Homo sapiens: one gene and its partners. The protein of the gene in region 2 purifies or fractionates together with the protein of the main gene of each other region. This does not show direct contact. Each region holds a gene or a part of one and is shown on either strand. Other genes may lie near its edges.

What was found. Proteins that work in one complex are often made in the same cells at the same time.
Region 1: the proteins of MAP7D2 (region 2) and LONP2 purify together in Homo sapiens (affinity purification with mass spectrometry; 2 studies listed by BioGRID and IntAct, with this or other methods). This does not show direct contact.
Region 3: the proteins of MAP7D2 (region 2) and ECI2 purify together in Homo sapiens (affinity purification with mass spectrometry; 2 studies listed by BioGRID and IntAct, with this or other methods). This does not show direct contact.

The regions. Positions count from the first base shown.
Region 1 is NC_000016.10:48,345,272-48,352,299, reverse strand, and holds part of LONP2 (lon protease homolog 2, peroxisomal), read right to left. Parts: exon of another isoform or gene 5,389-7,028; intron 4,794-5,388; coding exon 4,586-4,793; intron 4,201-4,585; coding exon 4,010-4,200; intron 720-4,009; coding exon 498-719; 3' UTR 1-497. UniProt on the Homo sapiens protein: ATP-dependent serine protease that mediates the selective degradation of misfolded and unassembled polypeptides in the peroxisomal matrix.
Region 2 is NC_000023.11:20,008,896-20,015,923, reverse strand, and holds part of MAP7D2 (MAP7 domain-containing protein 2), read left to right. Parts: intron 1-596; coding exon 597-701; intron 702-2,298; coding exon 2,299-2,355; intron 2,356-2,791; coding exon 2,792-2,870; intron 2,871-3,388; coding exon 3,389-3,575; intron 3,576-4,871; coding exon 4,872-5,121; 3' UTR 5,122-5,147; intron 5,148-7,028. UniProt on the Homo sapiens protein: Microtubule-stabilizing protein that plays a role in the control of cell motility and neurite outgrowth via direct binding to the microtubule. Acts as a critical cofactor for kinesin transport.
Region 3 is NC_000006.12:4,118,576-4,125,603, reverse strand, and holds part of ECI2 (enoyl-CoA delta isomerase 2), read left to right. Parts: exon of another isoform or gene 1-233; coding exon 234-354; exon of another isoform or gene 355-644; intron 645-3,557; exon of another isoform or gene 3,558-3,655; intron 3,656-6,328; coding exon 6,329-6,418; intron 6,419-7,028. UniProt on the Homo sapiens protein: Able to isomerize both 3-cis and 3-trans double bonds into the 2-trans form in a range of enoyl-CoA species. Has a preference for 3-trans substrates.

The sequences.
Region 1 (7,028 bases), on a different chromosome or scaffold from region 2:
TAATTGATTGGTTTCAGGATCCAATAAACTCTACAGGTAAATCCACTAAGGTAATGGTCTATACCGGTGGTTCCTGAACTTGAGTGTGCAGCAGAATTACCTGGAAGGCTTCTTAAAACACAGATTTCTGTCCCCACCTCCCAGGATTTGATTCAGGCGGCCTGCTGTGGAGCCTGAGAATGTACATTTCTAACAAGTTACCAGGTACTACAGATGCTTCTGTTCTGGAGACTGTGCTGAGAACCACTATGCTATATCTTTCCAGGGACAGTAAGGATCCCACTAAAAAGACAAGAATTCGATTTTTATCAGTTTACTAAATCAACATCTTATATTTCTATACTAAACACTAGCCACTACTTGAGGTTTATTACTGTTGTGATTATGTTTATAAAACAGGGACATCTTGCATACCCCTAATGGTGTGAATAAAATCAACTGTGTCAGTACCTTTGAGCACTTCATAACTTAAAATTCTAAAAAATTGAGATTTGGACCTACAGTTTGCTATTTAACAGACCAGGTCTGGTCTTGACAGTAAAGCCACCATCAAAAGCTGCATTAAGAACCTCATCCAGGCAGCTTGCTGTGACAAAACTTAAATCCTGTCGTACGTTGCCTGGGATTCCCTCAAGGTCTTTTTCATTTCTCCGAGGAATAATGACTTGCTTCAGTCCCGCTCTGTGTGCCGCCAGCACTTTGTCTTTAATTCCACCCACCTGTAAGGAGAGAAAAAAGTTTTTAGGGTTAATGATCACCCTCAAGCTGAAAGAAACCCTGACCCAGCTTTCTTTCACTGAATTTAACCACTACTATTTTAAAACATCCAAATCATCTTCCGTTTTGTTATAGCATGAGCTAGGAAAGCCAGGAAAAAGGATAAGTAGTAACCTTTTTTTAATGTTTCAATTGGTGTTATATTAAAGACTCTGATGAGGGGGATTCTAAATTGTTGATAGGTATGAGTTCCTCTTCTGTCAATGATTGTTTTTATAAATGCTGTCAAAGTAAATTGGCATTCAGGTGTAATCACAACCGTCTAGTCTTTAGGTTGATCTGAAAAAGCAGCACGTGATTCTGACCATGAGCGCCGCTCCTGCAGAGCTTAGCTGTGTGCTGGGGTTACTTCCCTCTCTACAGGTTTAAAGCCAGAACCTCCATGCTGGTTAATGAAGAAAATGTATCCCTAAACTAGGCTCCTATGGTGGCTTTCAAACATGTCTACAATGGTCCCCCTGCTTGAATGTGGGCCAGGCTTTGTGACTCGGTAAGAAACAGAGTGTGGTGGGAGTGATGCTGTATGATCTCCACGGCTGAGTCACAAAAAACGAGAGCTGCTGCCTGAATCTCTCTTGATCACCTGCCCTGGAGGTGGCCAGTCATAATGTCTGAGGTCACTCAAGCAGCCTATGGGCAAGTCCATCAGGTGAGGAACTGGGGCCTCCTGCCACTAGATGGGACCAATTTGCCAGTCACATGAGTCAACCACCATGGAAGCAGTTTCTCCAGCCTGTCAGCCTTCATGTGACTGCAGCCTGGCTGGAACCTAGACTGTAAGGCCAGAGACCCTGGGCCACAAGAACCCAGCTCAGCCTCTCCTGAATTCCTGGCCCACAGGAACTTGAAGAGTATGGAGTATTCTTGCTTTGGGGTAATGTGTTGCATCTGCTCCAATTAAGACTGGCTGGCTGCTCCAGGCCTTCCCGCCCCACTGGCATCTTCTTTCAAGGTTTTGTTCATGCTGCTGAAGTACTCCTTCAAAGTACCTTCTTCAAAAGAGTGTAAGATGAACTGATTCCTTGCATGTTTGAAAATATTTTACTTTCACACTTGATTGATACTAAGGCCATGTATACAAGACTAGATGTAAAACATTTTCCCTCACAGCTTTCATTACTATTTTTTTTTTTTTTGAGACAGTCTTACTCTGTCACCCAAGCTAGAGTGCAGTGGCACAATCTTGGCTCACTGCAACTTTCTGCCTCCCAGGTTCAAGCGATTCTCCTGCCTCAGCCTCCTGAGTAGCTGGGATTACAGGCATGCGCCACCACATCCGGATAATTTTTTTGTATTTTTAGTAGAGACAGGGTTTCACCATGTTGGCCAGGCTGGTCTCAAACTCCTAACCTCAAGTGATACGCCCACCTTGGCCTCCCAAAGTGTTGGAGTTACAGGCGTGAGCCACCACACCCAGCCTCCTTACTATTTTTAAAACAATTTTTGTAGAGATATATTTCCCAGGCTGGTCTTGAACTCCTGGACTTGAGCTATCCTCCTGTTTAGCCTCCCAAAGTGCTGGGATTACAGACGTCAGCTGCCACGCCTGGCCCATTTTCCCTCATAGTTTTGAAGGTACTGCACATCCAGTGTCAGTGCTGAGGCCGCTTTATCCTCAGTAATCTGAAAAGTCAAGGGGATGAAATGTTTTTCCTGGTTAGTAATGGTCCTTTCGATCTCAAGATGCCTTAACTTCTAGGAAATGTTCAGTTATTTCTTGGATAATTTGTTCCATTCCATTTTCCTGTTTGTTAGAACTCCTTTTAGATGTTGGAGTTCTAACAACAAATTGTTTTTCACTATAGTTTTTTCCTGAATAATTCTTTGACCACTTTCAAATCCCAAAGCCCCGTCTTGTCCTCTGTTCTCAAAGGAGGTTTTCTCCAGCTTTCACAGGCCTTTCTTTCAAGTGCTGCTGCTTTCCATCCTGCCTCTTGTAATGGTCTGGAGCTGAAGGTGTACCCCAGGCCGCTGTGGCTGTCTCTCCTGAGGCTGCAGAAGCCTTTACTTGGGCTACGATTTGCTCTGAGAGGGGACCAAGTAGAAAACCCATTTGTTCTATGGAGGTTCTAAAAATAGAAAAAATTATCCGGGCGTGGTGGCGCATGCTTGTAATCCCAGCTAGTTGAGAGACTGAGGCAGGAGAATCACTTCAACTTGGGAGGCAGAGGTTGCAGTGAGCCAAGATTGTGCCACTGTACTCCAACCTGGGTAAGAGAGCCGGACTCCATCTCGATAGAAAAAAGAAAAAAAGACTATTTCTTTTTTTTTTTCCTCATCTTGCTATGAACCTGCCAAAATCTTGTTGTGGACTAAAATTGTAGTCTAGTCTGTTGTAGACTAATACTCAACTAACAACTTTAAATACTCTCAAGTTCTGTACATTTTATCACACTATTTTTATAAGCAGTTTAGGATCTGGAGCCTCAAGACCCCACATGTATAGAACCTTTTCAAAATGTAGTCATTAGATATGGTTAATCTTTATTAGAGTTTCCATTCTATACTAGCAAAGTTTTCTGCAGGGGGACAGGAGGTCTCAAAGAAACTTCAAATTTAAGAAATGGGCTTAAAGCTTAAAAACAACTACTATCCCATTTTGCACATGTGCTATATCTTTAACAATTTGTCAAGTAGAACAAGGCCTCAAATTTTCATGTAACTGCCAATATTTCTGATGACCACACTAATATTTTTTTCCCTTAGCAAATCTTAGAATGGGAAACGTGGGCTGAATGTGGTGGCTCACGCCTGTAATCCCAGCACTTTGGGAGGTGGAGATGAGAGGACTGCATGAGACCTGGAGTTTGAGACAAGCCTGGACAACACAGAGAGACCCTGTCTCTACGCAAAATAAAATAAATTAGCTGAGCATGGTGGCGTGCTCCTATAGTCCCAGCTATTCGGGAGATAGACAGGAGGATCGCTTGAGCCCAGGACTTGGTGGCTATAGTGAGCTACAGTCACACCACTGCACTCCAGCCTGGGCAACAGAGTGAGACCTGTCTATTTCAAAAAAAAAAAAAAAAAAAAAAGGAAAATGTGAAAAATTGTCAGTTTTTCTTTTATTTGATCAAAATTTTAAAATATGAATTAGTTACAGGCATAAAAATATAATATATACTTAAAACCAAGGTTTTCATAGAAAGAAGGCAAACCCGTATTTAAAAATAATATTAATTTTCAAAAATTAAATAAAAAATAACCATATAAATTGTTTTTTCATACTTACTGGAAGAACAAGACCTCTCAGTGTAATTTCTCCAGTCATGGCTACATCTGAACGTACCAGCCGCCCACTAAAAAGTGAGGCGAGACAGGTTACTATGGTAACTCCAGCAGATGGTCCATCTTTTGTGACAGCTCCAGCTGGGAAGTGCAGATGGATGTCTGTGTTGTCAAGAAGATCAAAACTTCCAAAAGCTTTAAAAAGGAAAAAGGGACTTTAATGTAGAAAAATTAAACCTGTTTTCTTTTTCTCCTAAAAAAAAAGTCACAAACAAAAATGAATGTTTTGGGTAAATGAATTCTTCAAAATATTGGTGGACAGTACAATTTGGGTGAGGGTGTGGAAGAACAGTTCCATTCTACTCTAAGTCGTATTAAAACAAAATAAACCTTTTGAATTAGTTTCTAGTTCAGGCACTAGTCAAATAGTCCTGAAATGGGAACTAGGATTTCCACAGGGGTTCAAAACGGTGTGTACTTTGCTAGATGTGTAACTGGCAGTCTCGAGCTCATGCCAGTCTCCGCCATGGAAGGTACCGCCTCCTGGGTCACGCCTGCCTGGCCGGGTGCAGGCTCCTACCATTGGTCAGCTGGTACTTCTTTGCGTTGCTGCGGAGCCAGCTGATAGCGAGGTGGGCGGACTCCTTCATCACGTCCCCGAGCTGGCCGGTCAGAGTTAACTGGCCCTCGCCATCCATTCGACTCGCCTCCACGAACATGATTTCTCCACCTAAGGGAGTCCAAGCCAAACCTATTGCTACTCCTGGCTGACTCAAACGCTGAGATACCTTGAAAGAAGAAGAATGATCAGAGTTGGGTTGGCAAATGCTAAAGGTGACTGATACCACACAATCCTGCAAGAGTCGGCTGACTCCACAGAAGACTTCAGCCACTTACCTCAAAGTCCTTGTTACCTAACATGATTCTGCGTCACATTCAGCACTTACTCTCTGGCTTTCTGCCAGAAGAAAGACCTAAACTTCCTCTTTGACATTTATCAGAGGCAATTTTACCTTAAAATATATGTAAATAACTTTGCTTTTTATGAGCCAGATCTAGCTACACATGCCCTAGTTTTCAAGGAATAAACCCAATAGTTTTATCTAAGTATCTTTATTGGGCTGCAAATATATATATATTTTGAGACAGTCTCACTCCATTGCCCAGGCTTGAAGTACAGTGACACAATTTCAGCTCACTGAAAACTCTGCCTCCTGGCTTCAAGTGATTCTCCTGCCTCTGCCTCCCAAGTGGCTGGTACTATGGGCGCACACAGGCCACCACACCCGCTAATTTTTGTATTTTTTGTAGAGATGTGGTCTCACCATGTTGGCCAGACTGGTCTCAAACTCCTGACCTCAAGTGATCTGCCTGCCTCAGCCTCCCAAAGTGCTGGGATTACAGGTGTGAGCCACCACACCCAGCCTATTGGGCTGCATATTTATATATACTTCATAACCTAGCTTCATTTTAGGTAATCATGAATTTGTTTCAAAAAGTAGAAACCCTCTTACTAGCAGACCTTTAAGAAGAGTGAGCTTGGCCATGCAGAGTGGCTCATGCCTGTAATCCTAGCACTTTGGGAGGCTGAGACGACAGGATCGCTTGAGCCCAGGAGTTCGATAGAGACCAGTGTGGGCAACATGGTGAGACCCTCTTATTTTTTTTGAAAAGAAAAGTGAGAAGGGTTATATTAGAAACTCTAGATTTTACTTCTCCACCGCTTACCTTTAACTTTCTCTATTACTGCTGCAGAGACTATACAATACTACATAATAAACATCCTGGGTTCCTTCCCATGGGATGAGAGAGGTCCACTGTACTGCCTGCCATCTTAAATTGAACATGTTGTCACCTGAGACTAGGAGCATAGTTGATGGGCCATAGGTTAACACATCCAAGTTATGAAAACACTAAAAAGTAACAGTGGAAAATCAGTAATGTTAACTCTCATTACACCCTTTGAGCTTCAAAATTTCCTATCCAATAGAAGTTACTCATGTTAGAGGAACTGAACACAATAGGTCAACTAAGCACTAATCCAAACAGGAGATTTTTCTACTGAGAGTTGACCGTCTCACTAAGGAACAGCACTATACAGCTTGACTTTCTGGGTATGGGGCTGGGTTGCTTCTTTTTCTAAGGGGCTTGGACAATGAAATTCCTGATTGTAAAAATTATTCCAAAATTATGTGGCATCCATTGAAGCTATTGGGCACTTCTTTTCCTCTTTTTTTTTTTTTTTTTTTTGAGACATGAGTCTCACTCTGTCGCCTGGGCTGGAGTGCAATGGCACAATCTTGGCTCAATGCAACCTCCGCCTCCTGGGTTCAAGCAGTTCTCCTGCCTCAGGCTCCGAGTAGCTGGGATTACAGGCATGTATCACCACACCCAGCTAATTTTTGTATTTTTAATAGAGACAGTGTTTCGCCATGTTGGCCAGGCTGGTCTCAAACTCCTGACTTCAGGTGATCTGCCAGCCTCGGCCTCCCAAAGTGCTGGGATTACAGGCGTGAGCCTCTGCGTCTGGCCGAGCACTTATTTTCAGTAGTAAACATACATTAAAAAAAATTAATCCTAATTAACTTCATTTAACAGGTTAGAGATTTGAGAGGCCAAACTCCAGCATCAAGCTGACAGCATGTACCTCAGGTCACACTTTCCTCGAGCTTTGCCACTTGCCCTGTTCTATACTAACTTGAGGCGAAAGACACAAACGATCTATATGTAAGAGATCAGTACTACTTAAGGAAAATCATGAAACAGTTATTTATAAAACTGTTTACAAGGTTTGTTTTTTCTAATATAAAATCAATTCTCTATACCTGAATGACATACATCTAATTTGTGTGGGAATCTGTCACCCAAATTAGACTTCATTCAGGCTCCTTTCTAGGGTTGGGTGAATGAATCGTGTTTAACACAAAAAGTCATTTGGTACAATTTTGTTAACTCTACCAAGAATAATCCCTTTCTTATATTTGAATCCTCACAATTCATTTGTCAAAATAATACCAAAAGTA
Region 2 (7,028 bases):
TGCCATCTGTGAGTTAGGGTTTCCCCAAAGGCAAACCCTGGGCTAAGAATTTGAGTGCCAGCAGTTTTTTTTGCAAGCGAATCCCAGGAAGCTGGTAGAGGAATAGGAGAAAAGCCAATGTAAGTGCATTGATGCATGTGTTACTGTGGGTGACTGGAACACAGTCCCATTGGGAACCTCTGACAGACTGTGGATCATGCTTTAGAATTGTCCAGCTGAGGGATGAGGAAACTGAACTACTTATCTACCACATCCTGCCCTTCACGGTAGTAGAAGGTCACTCCCTGGGGAATTAACTCTCTGATCTGGCCACATGCACACTTCATGGCCCAAGCCTGCCCACAGACACAGAAAAGCCTTGGCCATGTGTGAGAACTGTCTGCAGGTGATTTGCATGGTGAGCCAGGGGTATATGAATGAGGTCCAACCATGTTTGCTGTGTCATGCAGTGGTTTGTATAAATCCACATTGAATATTGGAGCAGCATCCACTTTAGGGCAGATGATGAGATGAAGGAACATGTGCAAAGCCAGGGAATTACCACACTGTTTTCTTAGCTTATTAAAGCTTTGCCTTGATTTACCTGTTTCTGTTAGAAAGAAGCAGCAGAAACAAAGGCCCGGGAGGTAGCTGAACAGATGCGTCTCGAGAGAGAACAGATTATGCTGCAGATTGAGCAGGAGAGACTGGAGAGAAAGAAGGTAAGGGCTGAGGGTCAGGAAGACCTAGGGTAAGTGAACAGGAAGTAAATCCAGTTCTCTTCTGCAGTGATTGGATAGAATGATCCTAGGATTGTCAGTTAGGTCAAGTTCATTGATACCACTGTTCAAATCTTTTATGTCTTTATTAGTTTTTTGCCATCTCGTTCCATCAGTGATTGAGAAAGATTGTTAAAAACTCCATCTGTAGCGAGGCATGGTGGCTCACACCTGTAATCCCAGCATTTAGGGAGGCAGAGGCGGGAGGATCACTTGAGCCCAGAAGTTCCAGACCAGCTTGAGTAATACAGTGAAACCCTGTCTCTACTAAAAATACAAAAAATAGCTGGGTGTGATGGCATGTGTCTGTAGTCCCAGCTACGTAGGAGGTTGAGGTGGGAAGATGACCTGAACTCGGGAAGTTAAGCCTGCAGTGAGCCGAGATCATGCCACTGCAGTCCAGCCTGGGGAACAGGAGTGAGACCCTGTCCCAAATAATAGAAAAAAGAATAACTCCATCTGTGATTATGGATTTGTCCATTTTTCCTTTCAGTTCTGTCAGGTTTTGTTTTATATATATTTATCGTGATATGCCTTTGTCTCTAGTGATATTTCTTGTCTTAAAGTCTACTTTGACAGCCCCCTGCCTTTTATTTTTTTGAGACAGTCTCACTCTATTGCCCATGCTGGAGTGCAGTGGTGTGATCTCGGCTCACCACAACCTCCACCTCCCAGGTTCAAGCGATTCTCCTGCCTCAGCCTCCCAACTAGCTGGGATTACAGGCGCACACCACCACACCTGGCTAATTTTTGTATTTTTAGTAGAGATGGGATTTCACCATGTTGGCCAGGCTGGTCTCGAACTCCTGGACTCAAGGGATCCTCCTGCCTCGGCCTTCCAAAGTGCTGGGATTATAGACGTGAGCCACTGTGCTTGGCCTGACAGCCCTTTTATGATTAGTGTCTGTATGTCAAATCTTTTTCACCCTTCTACTTAAAACTTCTTCTGTGTGTTTTTATAAGTAAAGAGCATATAGCCAGGAATTGTTATTTTAATTCTGTTTGACAGTCTTTGTCTTTTAATTGGAGTGTTTAGTCCATTTACACTAACTATACTTATGGGTAAAATTGGGTTTAAGCAGACTGATTATAAAGGAGTATTCTCATGGTGTCCTAGGCCCAACCTGGGCTTTGTATTGCTGTAGGCCTGGGATCCAGGAGACCAGCCTGTGGCCTTCTCTCCTGAGATGCACCTCAGCCTCAGCCTCACTTTCTGTAGGGTGGTGCTCTTTAATGGCAGGTGGTAATTTGTTGATTTATACAGAGCCTAAGGAGAAGAAGGAGAAATATGGGATATAAATCGAATATTGATTCTAGATACGTACTAGTTAACTTCTCAAGCATTTGACCTTGTCCATGGGGCCGGAGGTGTACATCTCCAAAACTAGTGGAAAACCTTTCTATACTTGTTATCCTCTTCTGACTTTTGCCTTTTACAAGTTTTCTGAGAAATGTGACATTGCATGTAAACCAAGCTACTTTTATGTTTTTGGTCTTATTGTCCTCTTACTTGATTTTGTTTTTTGTTTTTTGTTTTTAGAGAATAGATGAAATCATGAAGAGAACAAGGAAAAGTGATGTGTCTCCACAAGTGAAGGTAGGAATTCAAATGACCATTTTAATAGTTTATGTACTAAGTAGAAAAGAACAGCAGAATACACTCAGTGAAATTGTAGGTCTTGGCGACGATTAGCCAGAAAAAAATGCAGTTTTCCTGCTTTGTTCCTGGCTAGGTTAAGGAGGGTTAGGTACCTGAAAAGAAAGAGGGGCTTCAGAGGTGGGATGGGTAAGAGATTTCCTTAGAGTCATGGGAGGTGGGATGAAGAGAGAGGCATAGTAGTCCATGAATAAAAAAGAGAATCCTGACATAAAAATACGTAAGAATAAGGGAAACACAGCTGAAGATTTAAAGAATTACCACAGAACAGGCAGATGGTCCAGGCTCAAAATATCATCGGATGCTTTTAAAAAGTACTTTTTTTCTGTGTGATGTCAGCCTTCCCTCATTTCATTCACCTTCCATTTGTTTTCAGAAAGAAGACCCCAAAGTGGGGGTCCAGCCTGCTGTGTGTGTGGAAAAGAAGACAAAACTGGTTGTCCCCAACAAAATGGGTGAGTGTGACATCTGGTTCTTGGGTTCTTCCTTTTAGTAGCAAAAGCTCGTAAGACTTGGTGTAGGGTAAACAGACCCATGGATCCCAAGAGGGTGACTGCTGGCAGGGGCCTGTGCAGTTTCCCTTCCCTGGGAATGTGTCTCCAGCACAGGGACTGTCAGCTCCACTTGGGAACCCACTGGGTTCCTTGGTTACTCCCATAATCCCAGCATAGGAGGCACTCTGGCTGCTGGCTCACAGTGCTTTCCAGGGAGCTTAACTGCTGGTCAGGTTTTATTACTGTTAGGACCTGACTCTGCTCTTCTCCAGAGGTTCTGCACAGACACTGATAATGTGATTTGTCTTCTCTTCTCCTGTGTGAAGGTGATTATATGGGTTTATTTGTGGCTCTTTCCACAAAAGATGCTGCAGTATCAGTGAAGCAGAGCATTAAATTAATTGCCTTGATCTATATTTCTCTGTTACTTTATTTAGACATTTTATGATTAACACAAGGGACTTTGTGTTCTCGATCAGAAATCAATGGATTGAACACCTGCCAGGAAGTTAATGGTGTGGATCACGCTGCCCCAGAAACTTATCCCCAAGACATTTTCTCTAATGGGCTTAAGCCAGCTGGGGGACTCATTCATCTGGATGCCCTTGATGGGAAATCAAATAGCCTGGATGATTCAACTGAAGAAGTTCAGTCTATGGATGTGAGGTATATTCATTTCTTTTGCATTTAAGCCTCATCACTTCTCGAAACACTACCCTTTCTTTTAGTTGGTTTCTTCGTCTTTTATACAACCAAATCACCTAAAGCAGGTTTGATTGACATTACAGGAAAGCTCTCAGTGGTATAACATTCTAGTGTCTTGCGTCAGGTTCCCTAGAAGCAGAGCCTGGAACAGAGTTTCTAGGGCATGTGATTTGTTAGAGGAAAGCTCTTGGGAGTTTTTCAGGAGAAAGGGGAAGGAGGGAATTCGCTAAGCAAGGATGCCTTCTCAGCTGACCCCATGGGAGCTCTGGAGGATGAATTTCCACCAGAGACAGTTCCTCTGAGCTTCTGCAGTTCTGGTTTTTCTAGATTCTTCTCTAAGATCTCACAAGGAAGAAAAAGAAGAACCTGGCAGCAGCTTTACTCTGGCTGTTAAGAGATTCCTGGTGACAGGCCCTCAGCCCACCACTCTTCAGAGCCTGGATTTGTTCCTTTGCTAGGCCTTACAGCTGGCGCAATTATGAAACTCCTCCTTCCATCTCTAGGGAGAGGAAGAGAGAGAGAGAAAGAAAACCAGCCTTGGCTGGGCTGGAGCTGGATAAGTCAGAGTGGATTGGAAGCCTCACTTTAGAGAGGAAGCAGAGCGTGAGATTGGCTTTGCCAGTGATGACGTGGGCTGTGGTGGGATCCTTTCATTATGGGCCCCCCAACCTTAACTGAGCACTTCAGGCGTTTCCACATGAACTCTTCTCAGCACGATCAGATTCACACTCACAGGAGCCCTGGCAGAGAGAAACAATTGTTCCCATTTTACTGGCGAAGAAACTGAGGCTGCAGGAAGGAAAAGCAATTCGCCCAAGGTGGCACTACTAGAAAGGCAGCACTGGGAGCCCCACTGTTAATTAGGGTTCTTCTTCAACTTGCTTTGAACTTTTGGCATTGGCTTTCTGTCTGAATGTCCCATTTAGAAAGTTCTGGAATGCCTTGCTTCTTTGTGGTAGAATGCTGGTGCCTGTGGGTTTTTGTCCTTTCACCCTTTGGGCAATGTGACCTTGGCCATCACAGCCCTGCTCAATCTGCTTCCCTGTTCTCATACATGGGGCCTCGTGTCCACCATCTGTCCTCCTCAGATTTGAGCCCACTTGTATTTTTTACAGTGTGTTACACAAAAACTCTGACTCTAAATCCTTCTTCTTTAGAAGAGTAGTAAAACAAAATATTGCAAATAGAATTAATATATTGTGCCATGTTGTCTGTCTGTCTCTTTCTGCCTCTCTCCCTCTCGTTCATCTCTTCTAGTCCTGTTTCAAAAGAAGAGCTTATCTCTATCCCGGAATTTTCACCAGTGAGTGAAATGATTCCTGGGGTGTCTCTGGACCAAAATGGAACTGGTAATGCCCGAGCACTTCAAGATCTCTTAGATTTCACTGGTCCCCCGACATTCCCCAAGAGATCCAGTGAAAATCTCAGCCTGGACGACTGTAACAAAAACCTTATCGAAGGATTTAACAGTCCTGGCCAAGAAACTCCTCTCAACACCTTCTGTTGACAAATACAGCATCCCTTTAATAAAAGGTACAGTCTTTTGATTATATTCTAACTTCATAACCCTTTAACTGGGGTTTGTGAAGATAGGATGTATATCACTCAGCCTCTTGGATGGTCAAATTTTATTTGAAAAACGCAAACATGAATATATTATGGTATACTACAACACACACAAGAATTGAGACAGATTTCAATTAATTCATCTGCGAGCCTTCAGCGCCGAGCCGCCTTGTCCTAACCCTGCTATTTAGGGTGTGTAGATGGGAAAGTTGAGAACACTGGCTAAAGGTTTGACTACCAGTCCAGCCTGAGTAGCTTTTTTAGGGGGCAAGGAAAGAATACTCTAGTAGTGTTGCAAGGTGATATGAATAAGATGAATTTCCCCACCTCTAGTTTTGCTCAGTGACATCCCACATTCTATCTAGAATCATTCATATACAGGGCCACAGGATTTGCTATTCTCTTGACCCATTCTGGATTCTTCCAAAGCAGACAGCTATTCTTGGATCATACCTGAGGGAGAGAGAACTGCAGTTTTTGTGTCTTGAAGGTTTTTTCCCCACCTTTGGCCTTTTTTTATTTTTGCCAAAGTGCTTCCAGAAGCTATTCTCATTTGAGCAAGAATGTCTATGAGTTATATACACTCTGTAGTAAGGTATACTTAGTTACATATACCTCACATTTTATTTACTTCAGTTTGGGGCTTGTTTTTGAATAAGGAAAACATAATTAGAGTCTGTCACCAAATCCTTTAATAATTTAATAATTCCAATTGCTCCTCCCACTTCAGATTCTGTTTTTGTTTTCAAGAGAAGTGATCTCACTCTGTTGTCCAGGCTGGTGTGCAGTGGCGCAATCACAGCTCACTGAGACTTCAAACTCCTGGGCTCAGGAGATCCCCTTGCCTCAGCCTCCTGAGTAGTTGGATCATAGGCACATGCCACCAGGCCCAGCTAATTTTTTTTAGTTTTTGTAGAGGTTGGGTCTTGCTATGTTGCCCGGCTGGTCTTGAACCCCTGGCCTCAAGTGATCCTCTCTCCTTGGCCTCCCAAGTACTTACTGGGATTACAGCCATGAGCTACCATGCCTTGCATCCATTTATCCATTTTAGATTCTTTTTTTTTTTTTTTTTTTTTTTTTGAGATGGAATCTCACTCTGTCACCCAGGCTGGAGTGCAGTGGCATGATCTCCACTCACAGCCACTTCTACCTCCCAGGTTCAAGCCATTCTCCTGCCTCAGCCTCCCGAGTAGCTGGGACTACAGGTGCACGCCGCCATGCCTGGCTAATTTTTTGTATTTTAGTAGAGACAGGGTTTCACTGTGTTGCCCAAGCTGGTCTCGAACTCCTGAGCTCAGGTAATCTGCCTGCCTTGGCTTCCCAAAGTGCTAGGATTACAGGCGTGAGCCACCGCGCCCGGCCATTTTAGATTCTTAAAAGCATTTTTATATTCTCGGCATTTTCTCAGTCACTTTATTTTTTATACTTCACTCCCATAACAAATTCACTGGCCAAAATAACAGTCCAGTGTTTTTATTTTTCAAATGAGGAAACAGGTGGGAGAGGCTACAGAGCTGAGGTCACTGTGTTTTTTGTATACTTGTTTCTACCTGACCTCAGCTCTTGCCTATAAGACAAGTTTGAGAGCCCATTTCTCTTGGTTCTTGGTGTGTGGTGGGTCACTTTTAGAGTAAACTGTATCACTGGTTTGGAAAAGCAGCTGCCTTCTTGGACACTTAAAACACTAAATCACCTGAGCATTCTATTTCCCTGACAGTTACGTGGCTTAATATTTATTAAGAGGTTTTTTGTGTTTTTAACATACTTTGACTTTAAAATTAGTTTCCCTTCAGTTCACTTACCTCACTATACAGTAAGGAACAGAGAATCCACAAAATTTATTAGAGT
Region 3 (7,028 bases), on a different chromosome or scaffold from region 2:
TTGACCCATAGGTCTCACTGGTTGGTCTTCCATCCACTGCCATTCAGACGGATGCCCTGGATGAATCTGGTGCGGAAGACCAGGGAAGTGGCAGGACAAGGAGGCACTGCTGGTGGTGGCTGTGGAAACACCCAGCCTGACAGAAGGCTTTATCTCAGAGTCAGACTGTCTTGCCCATGCTTTAGTCATGCTGCTTTGGCACATTTAATGATTTTGTGTTTCCATTTCTGTAGGGAATTTGTGGGCTGTTTTATAGATTTTCCTAAGCCTCTGATTGCAGTGGTCAATGGTCCAGCTGTGGGCATCTCCGTCACCCTCCTTGGGCTATTCGATGCCGTGTATGCATCTGACAGGGTAAGTCAGCTCCTAGAAAGCAAGAGGTCAGGCAAGCAGCGCGAGATGAGAGCCTTTGAATCCTCCTTCAGCGTTGCCAGTCATAAGCAGGTTACATGTTGTTTGTGGTAGAATTAACTGAATTTAGATTTTTCCCAAAGCATTAGGCTGATTTGACTGATTTTATTTTTCCTTCATTATTAACTTGCATTTTGTTGTGAACATTGTTCCAACTCTGACTGTTCCGGATTCTAATCAAATTCCACAATAGGTATACAGCTTTCATGTTATTCTGAAAGATTCAGGAGACACTTGAAAATTTGTTATGGGAGGGAGGAATAGCATCTTTGCAGGTTGTGCAAGGGATTAGTTGATCCTTTTTACTGAGTAAATGGATTTAGAATTTTAGAAGGAGAAGGACCTGTGAGCATTATCTACTGTCACTCCCTCCTTTGCAGATAAGAAAACTGAAGCTCTGAGAAGTTCCTTGCCCAGAACACAATTCAGCCTTGTGTTCACCATTGCATTATACAGATTTTAGTTTTTATTTTTACTACAGTAGTAATATATATGTCATAGTGGAAAATAAAATTTTGAAAGATATGAAAAAGTACCAAGAAAAGCTACAAGGTAAAAATCACTCCTTATCTTGCCACCTAGAGATAACCAGTCCTAACGTTTGGGTTATTAACTTATCTTGTTTAACCAGTCCCTGACTGCTGGAACCCTAGGCTGTTTCCAATTTTTATCATTACAAGCACCTAATAACCACCTTTAGGGTATCAGATTGTCCAGTGACTTATGCTTATGTGATGGTAAACTGTGCTGATGATTGCAGCCTTCTAGGGAGCATATGGTTTTTACCACTGAAGAGATTTCTAGTTTTGTTCAGAGGTATTTTCCCCACTGATAGACAGGACCATATAATAGCATCCTTAATTCTTCGAATTTTCTTTTGCTGGATTCCATTGAACCAGATTGGATGTATTGACAGACCTAATTCTTATGAATAATTTTCCCACAAAATTAGCAAATGAGATTCTAGGTGCCAGGCTGCCCAGCCTTTGTAGGTAGAGGTTTCTGTTCAAAGGCAGAAATCAATGTCTTTGTTCACAGTCTGTGTATTAGATGACTGATTAGTCATTGACCTGCTTTTAACAGGGACTGGGTCAATGGTTCCTGACCTAAAATTGGGGATCTCATTCTTTAATACTTGGAGGGCAAATATTGTATTTGAATCTTGTTCTGATTCTCCCACTGAATTGAAAATTACTTTCAATATACATCATCCTTATTTTTTTTTTTTTAAGAGATGGGAGTCTCACTCTGTCACCCAAGCTGGAATGCAGTGGCACGATCTTGGCTCACTGCAGCCACCACCTCCCGGGTTCAAGCGATTCTCCCACTCAGCCTCCTGAGTAGTACAGGTGCGTGCCACCACATCGAGCTAATTTTTTTGTATTTTTAGTAGAGACAGGGTTTCACTGTGTCGGCCAGGCTGGTCTCGAACTCCTGACCTCAAGTGATTCGCCTGCGTTGGCCTCCTGAAGTGCTGGGAGTACAGGTGTGAGCCACTGAGCCTGGCCTGCATCAACCTTTTAAAAATGTTGATGACTTCCATCTTATGATATAAATTGTAATAAATGTTGAAATCAGAAAACATATATACATAATACATATAAAACATATCTATTCTATATATATTATAATATATGTATATTGCATATATATATTAAATGCTAAAAAATTTGGCCAAAAGTAAAATTTATTTGTCAAATAGTGTCTTCTGATAAAAGTTTACCCAACCAAACAAATCAAGCATCATTTAAAATAAAGGAAATTGAGGTGGGCAGATCACCTGAGGTCAGGAGTTCAAGACCAGCCTGGCCAACATGGTGAAACACCATCTCTACTAAAAATATAAAAATTAGCCGGGCTTGGTGGCGGGTGTCTGTAATCCCAGCTACATTGGAGGCTGAGGCAGGAGAATTGCTTGAACCCAGGAGGTAGAGGTTGCAGTGAGCCGAGATCGTACCACTGCACTCCAGCCTAGGTGACAGAGCGAGACTCTGTCTCAAAAAAATATATAAGTAAAAAATAAATAAAATAAAGGAAATATGCTAAAGGAAAAGGCTGTAGAAAAAATTGTTTTATAAGATTTACCATTATTGGCTTCAAGAATAAATATCATATTAAATGATGGGTTAATATTTAACCCATATAACCAAAATATTAATCAGTACATTTAATCTATTTTATACTGTGGGCAATGGTTAATAATGCCTATTAGCTCTGTCAGCAAATGATACATTTCCTGTATGAGTTAAGAAAAAGGTAGAAATCATAACAATAATAAATCTTTGAGTGGTCACTGTTTAGGCACTCTATTCACATGCATTATGTATATTATAAATATACGCATACACACACACATATTCACGTAATGTACAGAGTAGCCCGATGAAAGAAGGACTTGGCCAGGCACAGTGGCTCACGCCTCTAATCCTGGCACTTTGGGAGGCCAGGGCAAGTGGATCACCTGAGGTCGGGAGTTCAAGACCAGCCTGGCCAATGTGGTGAAACCCCTTCTCTACTAAAAATACAAAAATTAGCCAGGTGTGGTGGCAGGCGCCTGTAGTCCCAGCTACTTGGTAGGCTGAGGCAAGAGTAAGGCTGGGCAACAGAGTGAGACCCTGTCTATAAAAACAAACATTCTCCTCCAATGTGGCAAAAATAAGTTTTACAATCTAGGCTGGGCATGGTGGCTCATGCCTGTAATCTTAGCACTTTGGGAGGCCAAGGCAGGTGGATCACTTGAGGTCAGGAATTCGAGACCAGCCTGGCCAACATGGTGAAGCCCCGTCTCTACTAAAAATACAAAAATGAGCTGGGTGTGGTGGTGCACGCCTATAATCCCAACTGCTCGGGAGGCTGAGGCAGGAGAATCGCTTGAACCCGGGAGGCGGAGGTTGCAGCGAGTTGAGATTGCGCCACTGCACTCAAGGCTGGGCAACCGAGCAAGACTCCGTCTCAAAAAAAAAAAAAAGCAAAGAAGGATTGGTTCCCATTTTACAAATGAGAAAACTGTGGTACAGAGAGGGTAAGAAACTTTCCCAACGTCCCTAAGTAGTCTGACGCCAGAGCCTAAACCCTTAACTCCACCTGCTGCTCTCTTTCTGAAAATCAGCATTTTAAATGCTGCTTACTGGCAACTTTGCATGTACCTGTTTGTGTCCCTTTAGCTGTTGTTGGCAGGTTTCTCAGTTTCCTGCTTGTATTCCTTAGGCTGTGTCTTCTGGGTACATTTTTTTGAATAAGTTTTCTTTTGGATAAAAAAAGAAGATACATGACATTAACAGAAACTTTTAAAAATATTGTGATTATTTTTATGTATATGCTGCATATGTTATAGATTTATATCTTCTAACAGTTATATAGTAAAAACAACAGCGTGTCTGATTATAGGAAATGAAATCTAAATATTCTTTTACATATTATGAATTTTAAATTAACATTCTTTCATAATTTATTCATTAAGAAACACAAAAATATGTCTTAAATGTAAAAAAAAAAAAAACTAAAAATGACTATATACTAAATAACCAATATTGAATTAATTCCAGTAGTTAAAGCCAACCAAAAAAACCACTGGGGCAAAATCAAGACAAATGACAGATTGAGGAAACAATTTTTCAACTCATGTAACAAAAGCTGATCTCTCCACGATACTTTTTAAAGTTTGTCTATAAAGCGATAGATCCACAAGCTAAAATAAAAATGGGCAATGGTGAGGAATGAATAGGTCAGACAAAATGAAATATAAAGGGCTATTAAAACCATATGAGAGAAACCACTGAGAAAATGAAAAGATAAGCCATAGACCAGGAGAAAAGATTTGCCTGACGCTCTAATAAAAGACTTGCAATCTGAATGTGTATCTTACAACTATATAATAGGAAGGTAAACAGCCTAACTTAAAAAAATAGTGGAGAAAATATCTTAACAGTTGCTTCACCAAAGAAAATATACGTATGTCTAATAAGTACATGGTAAGAGACTTAATACCATTAATGGTTAGGGACATGTAAATTAAAACCACAGTGAGACCCCACTACATACATACTAGCATGGTTAAAATGAAAAAGACTTAATAGCTAGGTTTAGTGAGGATGTGGAGCAATTGGAACTTTCATACATTGCTGGTGGGAATGTCAAATGGTACAACCACTCTAGAAAACAGTCTAGCAGCTTCTGAGCTAAATATACATTTACCACACAGACCAGCCATACCACTTAGGTATTTACCTATGATAATTTAAAAGAGATTCACCCAGTGACCTGTACACAAGTGTTCCTAACTGCCTTTTTGTTAACATTATCTGAACATTTTTATTTTTAAATTTTTTTTCAGTTTCATTGAGGTATACTTGACAAATAAGAATTGTACAGTCAGGTGCTGCATAACAACATTTTAGTCAATGGCAGACTGCATGTAAAACGCTGGTCTCCTAAGATTATAACACCATATCTTACTATACCTTTTCTTTTTTTTTTTTCACTCTGTCATCCAGGCTGGAGTACAGTGGCATGATCTCGGCTCACTGCAGCCTCCTCCTCCCGGGTTCAAGCAATTCTTGTGCCTCAGCCTCCCGAGTAGCTGGGACTCCAGGTGCACACCACCACACCAGGCTAATTTTTGTATTTTTAGTAGAGATGGGGTTTCACTACGTTGGCCAGGCTGGTCTCGAACTGCTGACCTCAGGTGATTTGCCCACCTCTGCCTCCCAAAGTGTTGGGATTACAGGCATGAGCCACCACACCCGGCCTACCTTTTCTATGTTTGATATATTTAGATACACAAATGCCATTTGTTATAACTGCCTAGAGTATTAAGTATAGTAACATGCTGTCCAAGTTGGTAGCCTGGAAGCAGTAGGGATTACCACATAGCTAGGTGTGCAGTAGGCTGTGGCATCCAAGTATATGTAAGTATACTCCATGATATTGGCACAATGACAAAATTGCCTAATTATGCATTTCTCAGAACATATCCCCATTGTTAAGCAACACACGACTAGATATATTTAAGGTGTTCAACTTGTTTTTCATAGCAGCCTTCTTCATAGTAGCCTTTCATACGTTGCTAGTGGCAGTGTCAAATGGTACAACCATTTGAATGCTAGAAACAACACCAATGGCATTAACTGGTGAATGATAAACATATTATTGTGCATCCATACAAAGGAATACTACTCAGAAATAGCGAGGAACAAACTACTAATACATACAACAGCATGGTGACTCTCAGAAGTCAGACTCAAAATGCTACAGAATGTAGGATTCCACTTATACAGCATTCTATAAAAGTCAAAACTGTAGGGACAGAAAACAGATTAGCAGTTGCTTGGGGGTGGGAGGGAGGGACTGACTACAGAAGGGCCCCCGGAACCTTTCAGGGTGGCTGAAATGTTCCGCATGTCAGTAGTGGTGGTGGCTATGTAACTCTCTATTTGTTCAAACTCATCCAACTATACACTTTTAAAGGGTGAATTGTGTGTGCATATTAACCACATAATCTTAATTTTTAAATAAATATTATTAAGTATTGTGAAGTTATAAGCAAATCGTGATTTTTAAAAATAACACATGAAGCCAGGCATGGTGGCTCACGCCTGTGATCCTAGCACTTTGGGAGGCCGAGGCAGGTGGATCACCTGAGGTAAGAAGTTTGAAACCAACCTGGCCAACAGGGCGAAACCCCGTCTCTACGAAAAATACAAAAATTAGCCAGGCATGGCAGCGCATGCCTGTAATCGTAGCTGCTGTGGAGGCTGAGGCAGGAGAATCGCTTGAACCCAAGGGGTGGAGGTTGCAGTGAGCCGAGATCGCGCCACTTCACTGCAGCCTGGGCAAAAGAGCGAAACCCTTTGTCTCAAAAAAAAAAAAAAAAATCACACATGAAAAGATGGTTTTCTTTTCTCTCCTGCCTCTGCAGGCAACATTTCATACACCATTTAGTCACCTAGGCCAAAGTCCGGAAGGATGCTCCTCTTACACTTTTCCGAAGATAATGAGCCCAGCCAAGGTAACTTTTGGAATGTTTAAATATAAAATTTTATGAGTCATCTCAAGAAAGAAGGAAGAGTAATCTCATATACTCTCCCTTCTTTCCCTTGGTAATATGGACAAAAGAGAAGCTAATGATTTGCTTTTCAACTCTTTAAGAGTTTTACCAATGGAGGAATCAGGCTATGGGAAGTATCTGCTATGCAGGAAAATTAGAAATTCTCTCTGCAGTTCCCAGAACTGGGATCCTCCTCTTCAGCTGGCTGCTTAGTGCTAGCTGCACTGCAAGCAGCACAGCACCTCAGCCTTGCAGCTGTGTGGCATTAGTCACTTGAAGGACCAGGGCTGTGCCAGCCTCCCTTGGTCCCCTGAGTTTGGAGGCCACTCGGTTCCTTTATGGATGACCAGTATCTCCTAAGGAGAGACATGATGACGTCTTCACTTTCAGAGTTACAGTAAGTACCAACAGATGGGAGGTTTTGTGGGGGCTCACGGCTGCCAGAGCCACCCCCAATCACAGCAGCCCTTCCATCAGCCTGCTCACGGGTGTATTCTCTCCCAGGCTGGTTAAGTGGCTGCTCAGGTCTTTCACTGTGTTTCCTAGTTGCCCACGCCCTGTGGCATGACTC